2 linked regions of the Homo sapiens genome follow. The protein of the gene in region 1 purifies or fractionates together with the protein of each later gene. This does not show direct contact. Each region holds a gene or a part of one and is shown on either strand. Other genes may lie near its edges. The genes, in order: MPC1 and RAB8B.

Region 1 (3,831 bases):
ATGTTTTCCATTTAATCCAACATATGTTAATTTCTTTTTGAATTTTAATAAAGTTCCTTATTTTTCTCAAAATTGACTGCTGAATATCTGACAGCATAAATCAATTGTATTCTAAAAAAGGGAAGAGAGAACTAGAATATTGTACTAGATAGAAAAGATGCATTATAAACTTTCTAAGGTTAGGTATTTTAGTAAACTAGTGTTAAAATGATTTTTACCTTTCGTGTTCTTCTTAAGAAACATATTTTCAGTATAGCTCAACACTTACAGTCATAAGTGTATGTATAGTTCTTAACTTGCAGAACTGTTTCCTATAACCTAACACTCATCACACTTAAACTTTTTATTTTTTTAATTTTTTTTCTTTTTTGAGATGGAGTCTTGCTCTGTTGCCCAGGCAAGAGTGCAGTAGCACTATCTTGGCTCACTACAACCTCTGCCTCACGTGTTCAAGCGATTCTCCTGCCTCAACCTCCCTAGTAGCTGGGATTTCAGGTGCAAGCCACCACACCCAGCTAATTTGTGTATTTTTAGTAGAGACGGGGTTTCACCATGTTGGTCAGGCTGGTCTCAAACTCCTGACCTCATGATCCGCCTGCCTCAGCCTCCCAAAGTACTGGGATTACAGGTGTGAGCCACCATGCCCGGCCCATACTTAAACTTTTAATAACATCACTTAGCCAGGAATCTCCCAAGGCTACTTTAGGTTTAGATTTATTCCATTGTCCATTTCTGCTTTAGCCCCACCTATGAAAGAAGACACATTCACAACCAGTGGTAGAGAAACTGTGGTTTATATGCCCCTCTTAGAATAACTCTTCAGGCTCTGTTTATAGCCCTGGGTTCATGCATGATAAAGTAGACAGCAACACCACCATACAGTGCAGAGGAGTGGCAAGAGAGTAAACGGAAAAGGAGATGAAAATAGACCAAGTGGAGAAAGGCCTGGTCAAAAAAGGAGGAAAAGGAAGATCACTATGGAATAATAGAGAGTTGAAAAATGAAGTGACACCCAATAACAGGACGGGTAAGAAAAGAAGTAAGTAGGTAAGGGAGAGATAGATACTCTCCCTTACAAAAGTCTGGGGAATAAGGAAAAAAGAAAACTGGCCATATTGCATCTAAATGTAAGAAATTAAGGGTCATTGTTAATAGAATTCTGCAGGAGTGTACTTCTCTCCAACTTGTCATTTTCTTTTTTTTTTTTTTTTTTTCCCTGAGACGGAGTCTCGCTCTGTCACCCAGGCTGGAGTGCAGTGGTGCAATCTTGGCTCACTGCAACCTTCACCTCCCGGGTTCAAGCAGTTCTCTGCCTCAGCCTCCCAAGTAGCTGGGATTACAGTCACCTGCCACCACGCTGGCTAATTTTTATATTTTTAGTAGAGACAGGGTTTTACCATGTTGGCCAGGCTAGTCTTAAACTCCTGACCTCGTGATCCACCCGCCTCAGCCTCCGAAAGTGCTGGGATTACAGGCGTGAGCCGCTGCACCCGACCCAACTTGTCATTTTCAAAGAAATATTTCCTCCAAAGCCTTGCTGTCCAATTTGAGAGCCACTAGTCACCTCGTCTAAATGTAAGAAATTAAGTGAAAGTTGCAGTAGTGAGTATCTTAGATAACATGCAGTCTGAATGCAAGATAACTAATTAGCCAGCCCAGAATCTCAAGATTCTTTAAACCAACTGTGCCTAATTTACAGAGTTTATAACTCACATGTTAAACCCTGAAATACTTATGGTGATGGCTATGTGGGAACTTTGACCTTTTGTAGTTATCTAAATGACCTTGTGGCTTTCATGTTAAATAAACATTTTTAAATATTCTATTATGCCAAATCTAATTCCCATTTATTTTTCTTATATTTCCCTTGGTTTACCACTTTTTAGGGAATCTTTGGATTTTAACCCCTCGTCAATAGTAGAAGCAAAGTCTGAATTTAACCTAAACATTATGATAGGCAGAAGTCAAGCAAAGACTGTTTTTACTCTTTAGTGTTAGGATAACTAAAAGGGGTGTTTAGCCAACAAGATGTGGTTCCTTTCAGATTTGAAAATATTATTTCCAAATTCTAAATTAATGAAACAATTTTTCATCTTTAATGAACAAAAGCCACAAGCCTTATTTTATTTCAGCCTCTAAAATTAAATTGATTGTGGCTGCTGTCAAACACAGACGACTTCACTTTGGTATCCTTGGATGAGTGTAGTTGTGGAATGAAAAACTATTGGTTCATTTCTTTAATATTAATATAAGTTTTTGCTATTATGTCAAAAGTACTTTCCAATCTTAATTTCTTAGTGTCTGGGGTCCTGGGCATTGATTTCCAAGTTATTTTATCTTAGAATAGCTCATATGAGCTGAAAAACAATTTATTCTCTTATTAAGCTTCTTTCTTCAGAAAAGTACCCAATTTAGGGTCTGCATTTTAAGAATTATTAACAAATATCTTCATAAAAATTTGGGAAAAGGAGTGTGGATAGATTTAAACATAAAAATATGGAGAATAGTTCTAACAGGGTTTGAATTATAGCAACAATGGATTGTGTAAGAAGTGAATCTTATTTTTATTTTTAAATGTTCTAAATAGGACAATCAGAGATGACTTGGTTGTAGTGTGGAAACCAGTAGGGACCTTGGGAAGCTGCCAAACCCTTTCTAGCTCTGGGCTCAGCTGTAAGAACTGCTGATTCCTACAGGAACACTTGGACAATCCAATACCTAAATGTTAACCATCAATTAACCCAGTAAACCTGCAAGATGGAAACGAAGATTTGTTCTCACGAGTTTCACGTGATTATTTAAAGTAAGGGAAATTTCAGCTGTTTATAGTTCTGTCTTAACTTTTTCCTCTCTTCATTCTTTTCCTCTCATTTTTTGTAGCACTTCTGGGGCCCAGTAGCCAACTGGGGTCTTCCCATTGCTGCCATCAATGATATGAAAAAGTCTCCAGAGATTATCAGTGGGCGGATGACATTTGGTAAGAATGCAGATTTGGATAATTGGGAGGACTTTCAACATAGTAGAGCTCCTGCTTGCATTTCAAGATTGTAGCACTAGATGTTACAGTCACTATTAGAAAGTCACATACAGAATGTGATGGCATGGAAGAGTGTTACTTCTCTATGTCAGTAAGAAACAAGATTAATTAGAAATATTTATCTAGGAAGTAGTAACATCTTATTTGCCTTTCAGATTTAGCACACTGAACTGAAGACTGTGTCATCTGAATCATTCTAATAGTCACTTTAATGATTTATATTGTGAACTTTTTTGGGGGAAACTGTCATTAAACTGACTTGAAACCCTGATATTTGAACATAAAACTATTGTGGAGGGAATAAATAACAATTCTTTCAGATAATGAATGGATTATAAGCAACTCCAGGAGACAAAAAAAGTGTCTAGAACAAATTTCAGCCTACTCTTGCTCGGAAATATGTTCCTTAAATGTTTAAATAATTAACAAAAATGCATAGCAGTACAGTAAATTTTTTTATGAGCTTCCTATTGATACAGGCATTTAAGTAACAACTTTTATCTGTCAAAGGCTTTCGCAGAAGAGGTTCTTTTTTGATCAGGGCAATGGAACTGTTCATCTCTGTGGTCCTATCAACCCTCTCAGTTTTCTAAGTTATTGATTGTCTTTGCTCTGCTATTTTTGGCAGCCCTCTGTTGCTATTCTTTGACATTCATGAGATTTGCCTACAAGGTACAGCCTCGGAACTGGCTTCTGTTTGCATGCCACGCAACAAATGAAGTAGCCCAGCTCATCCAGGGAGGGCGGCTTATCAAACACGAGTAAGCAGATTTCAATTTAGTTACTTTCTTTTC
Region 2 (3,166 bases), on another chromosome or scaffold:
TAGCAAGACCCCATCTCTGAGGCGGGGGGAATATATATATGTGTATATATATATATATACATATATATAGTGAATATATAATAATGAAAATGTTTTGTTTTACCTATAGGCATTTTTTACACTTGCACGAGATATAATGACAAAACTCAACAGAAAAATGGTTTGTATCACTTATAATTTTTATTTCCATTATGCTGTCTGTTTGGCATTTGATGAAAAGGATAGGTCTAATTATAAGATACTCAAATTAAACTCATTTTTTTCCTGACTCAGATACTCATTTGGTTGAACTCTGATTCTTAGTTCTGTTTGTTTAGGATTCTTATTTCTGAGCTGCCACTGTTTCAGTCCTTTCTTCTGGCTCTTTAAGTGATCTTTAATTGAATTTTGATGAGAATAATGAAAATAATAATGGCACAAATTCGATTTTTGCCATAAAATTATTCAGTTTTCATGTGACAGGTATTTATATCTGCATAACTACGATTTTGAAGTTGCTAAAGTTTGCTTAAATTTGAAATCATTAAGACAACCTTGAAAGTTTGTTTTATCCTGAGTCCTGACTATAATTGCGTACCTTATGCTACTAACTCTTCTTACCTCTAACAGAACTGTCTATGCCAGTATCTTAACATTGTTTCCATCATTACCTTTGAAACTTTACACTCCATTGGAACTAGAAATAGAAGCTTCCTATTGAATACATTATTGATATAAAAGCTGCTATCGTAAGGGCATTTTCCTCTTTTCAATTCACCATTTCCAAAGAAAAAGACAACATTGGTGCTTAACTAGTTCCCGTTCTAATAAAATACTCTAGTGAATACACATTTCACTAGAATACACATTTCACATGGTATGGTTAGTTATTTTTATTTTTTAGGTAACTGAGGTCAAACCATGAAACTTTTATTTCCTTGGTAACTTCATCTTCTATTTTTTAGAATGACAGCAATTCAGCAGGAGCAGGTGGACCAGTGAAAATAACAGAAAACCGATCAAAGAAGACCAGTTTCTTTCGTTGCTCGCTACTTTGATGAACTCTTTCTGAGAGACTGCAGCACACCTAGAGGGCCCTTTCCTGCTTCTCTGAAAGCACAGGTCACCCAGCCTCAGAATCACACCTCCCGGCTGCTGCTGAGAGCACCACTGAACTTAGACCTCTCAACACAGTATGCCAAGTGGATTCCAGCCTCATGGCCTAGCAAAAGAACAGACTCCCTTTTTCAAACATGGAAGCAATGAAGTGGAGACACATGCAGGACCTAACTCGTTTTTTCCTTGTTTTATTACCTGTTGCAGAAGCGGTTATCTTTCTTTTTTACTTTGCACATCAGTGTTAGCCTTTCCCTATTTCAGCACAATCTTAGACTCATATTTGCACACTTTTGTGTCGTGAAGTTCTAGACAAATTTGTACATGTGGCAATGTTAAAAGAGCATTTACAGCAGAGGTTAATATACTAAAATTAAAGGGTATTTGGTCTGGTTCATATGGTCAAATATTACTGCCTTGGTAGCATTTATTTAAGGGCTTTTTCTTAAATAAGAATCATTAAAGTCATTAAAAAAATTTACTGAAATGCCCATCTTGTCATCAAAGGCCACAATTTCTTTATTTCTTCAGATTAAGAGCTTTGCCTCATCCCCGACCTGTTTTCCAGAGTCTGGGTAGCTGAATGAATCACTTTAAAATGATTACCTCTGCCTAATCTATAGAAACTGCATTTGGAAATCACCATAATCTCATTTTTCCCTGGGGTTTGTATTTGCTATTCTTTCCCATGTTTGACTTAAGTGTAATCACTCTTAAGTAATATTTGAACATTATTATCTGTTTCTATTTGTGAACTTCTTGAGCTGAAATTTTACGTGGGCTGAGAGATATACCATTTAGGGTTTTAGTGCAGCATCTAACTGTGATTCTGTCAATAAGGATATGTAATATATTTTTTCTTAGGTTCACTCCTTAGCTGGCTGGTTTAGTTGTAATACCAAATTCCTACCATAATCCCTGTCTACAAAAGTTAGGTTTAGATTTTAGTTTGCGGAAACCTTCCCTATATAGAGACAGATTAACTTGTTGATATAAATTTAATAGAGCTAGCTCTTGGTAATGGTGAAAATAATGAGTTTTGGTTGGTTTTATTTGGCAGATGTTTTTAGAAATAAAAGTACTTAGACCTAGTGCAGCCTCTAGGAAAAGTCTTGCCTTTTCATTAGAGAAAACAGGACCAAGGTTTCAGTTTTCAAACAGCTGTTGTTGATTGTGTAGAACCCAGTTCCATCTGTTTTGGTTCATTGTTACAGAACTTAGTCCAGTCATTTGGGCTAAAGCCAACCAAAAGCTTAGTTGCCTTTCTCAACAAACACTGGTACTGGTATACTTTTGTAGATGAAACCATCACAAGGTATTTAGTGTTAACTTGTGTGCCAAATTCAGATCACTATGTCGTTGTTGCTCTAGCCTTCAGTGTCATAACACAGGGGGGATAAAACAGAGGGGATGAGGGAAATGAATTCTGTTAATAATTATTCTTCCTGGTATGCCTGTTTTGCTTCACAAAGGCTACTATCATGCTGGATAGATAAGAACAGGAGATGGCAGTGGAAAGGGATTGCTTGTTACCACAGAGAATTCTCTTCAAATTAAGATATGTCATTAGAATGCTTGGACCAGTCAATCTTTTGTACTTATTTGAAAATATAGGAACAATTTAGCAGCTGCAAATATGCCCAAGCTATTTTTAATAGATATACTAAACTTATTGTTGACAAATTTCAGCCTCCTTAATTTTTTTTTTTTTGGTAATTACCTATAGGCTTAAAAGTCATTCGTTGCTGTTCTAGTATAATTAGTAGTTCCGTGATTGAAAGTTTATTGTAATTCTACTATCTTCAAATTAGATACATTTTCAAAAGGAAAAGATAATTTTTTAGAAACATCTTAATATTCACTATTTCCTGAAAAAATCCAAGCAGTTAACGCTTTCTGGATGGTAACAAAGTACCTTCTAAAAGATAAGTGCTATGACACCATGTATGAATGTAATTCTCTTAGTAATTTACCTCTGACTATTTGGTGTCTTAACGCTTTGGTTTATATAATCTCAGGGGTTGTCTGCAAACCAAAACTGACATATTCTGTGGTTAGCTTTTATTACTTT

Evidence for each region.
Region 2: the proteins of MPC1 (region 1) and RAB8B purify together in Homo sapiens (affinity purification with mass spectrometry; one large-scale study listed by BioGRID and IntAct). This does not show direct contact.

What each region holds. Positions count from the first base shown.
Region 1 is NC_000006.12:166,365,941-166,369,771, reverse strand, and holds part of MPC1 (mitochondrial pyruvate carrier 1), read left to right. Parts: intron 1-810; exon of another isoform or gene 811-1,039; intron 1,040-2,587; exon of another isoform or gene 2,588-2,803; intron 2,804-2,880; coding exon 2,881-2,977; intron 2,978-3,665; coding exon 3,666-3,798; intron 3,799-3,831. UniProt on the Homo sapiens protein: Mediates the uptake of pyruvate into mitochondria.
Region 2 is NC_000015.10:63,262,583-63,265,748, forward strand, and holds part of RAB8B (ras-related protein Rab-8B), read left to right. Parts: intron 1-109; coding exon 110-160; intron 161-944; coding exon 945-1,037; 3' UTR 1,038-3,166. UniProt on the Homo sapiens protein: The small GTPases Rab are key regulators of intracellular membrane trafficking, from the formation of transport vesicles to their fusion with membranes.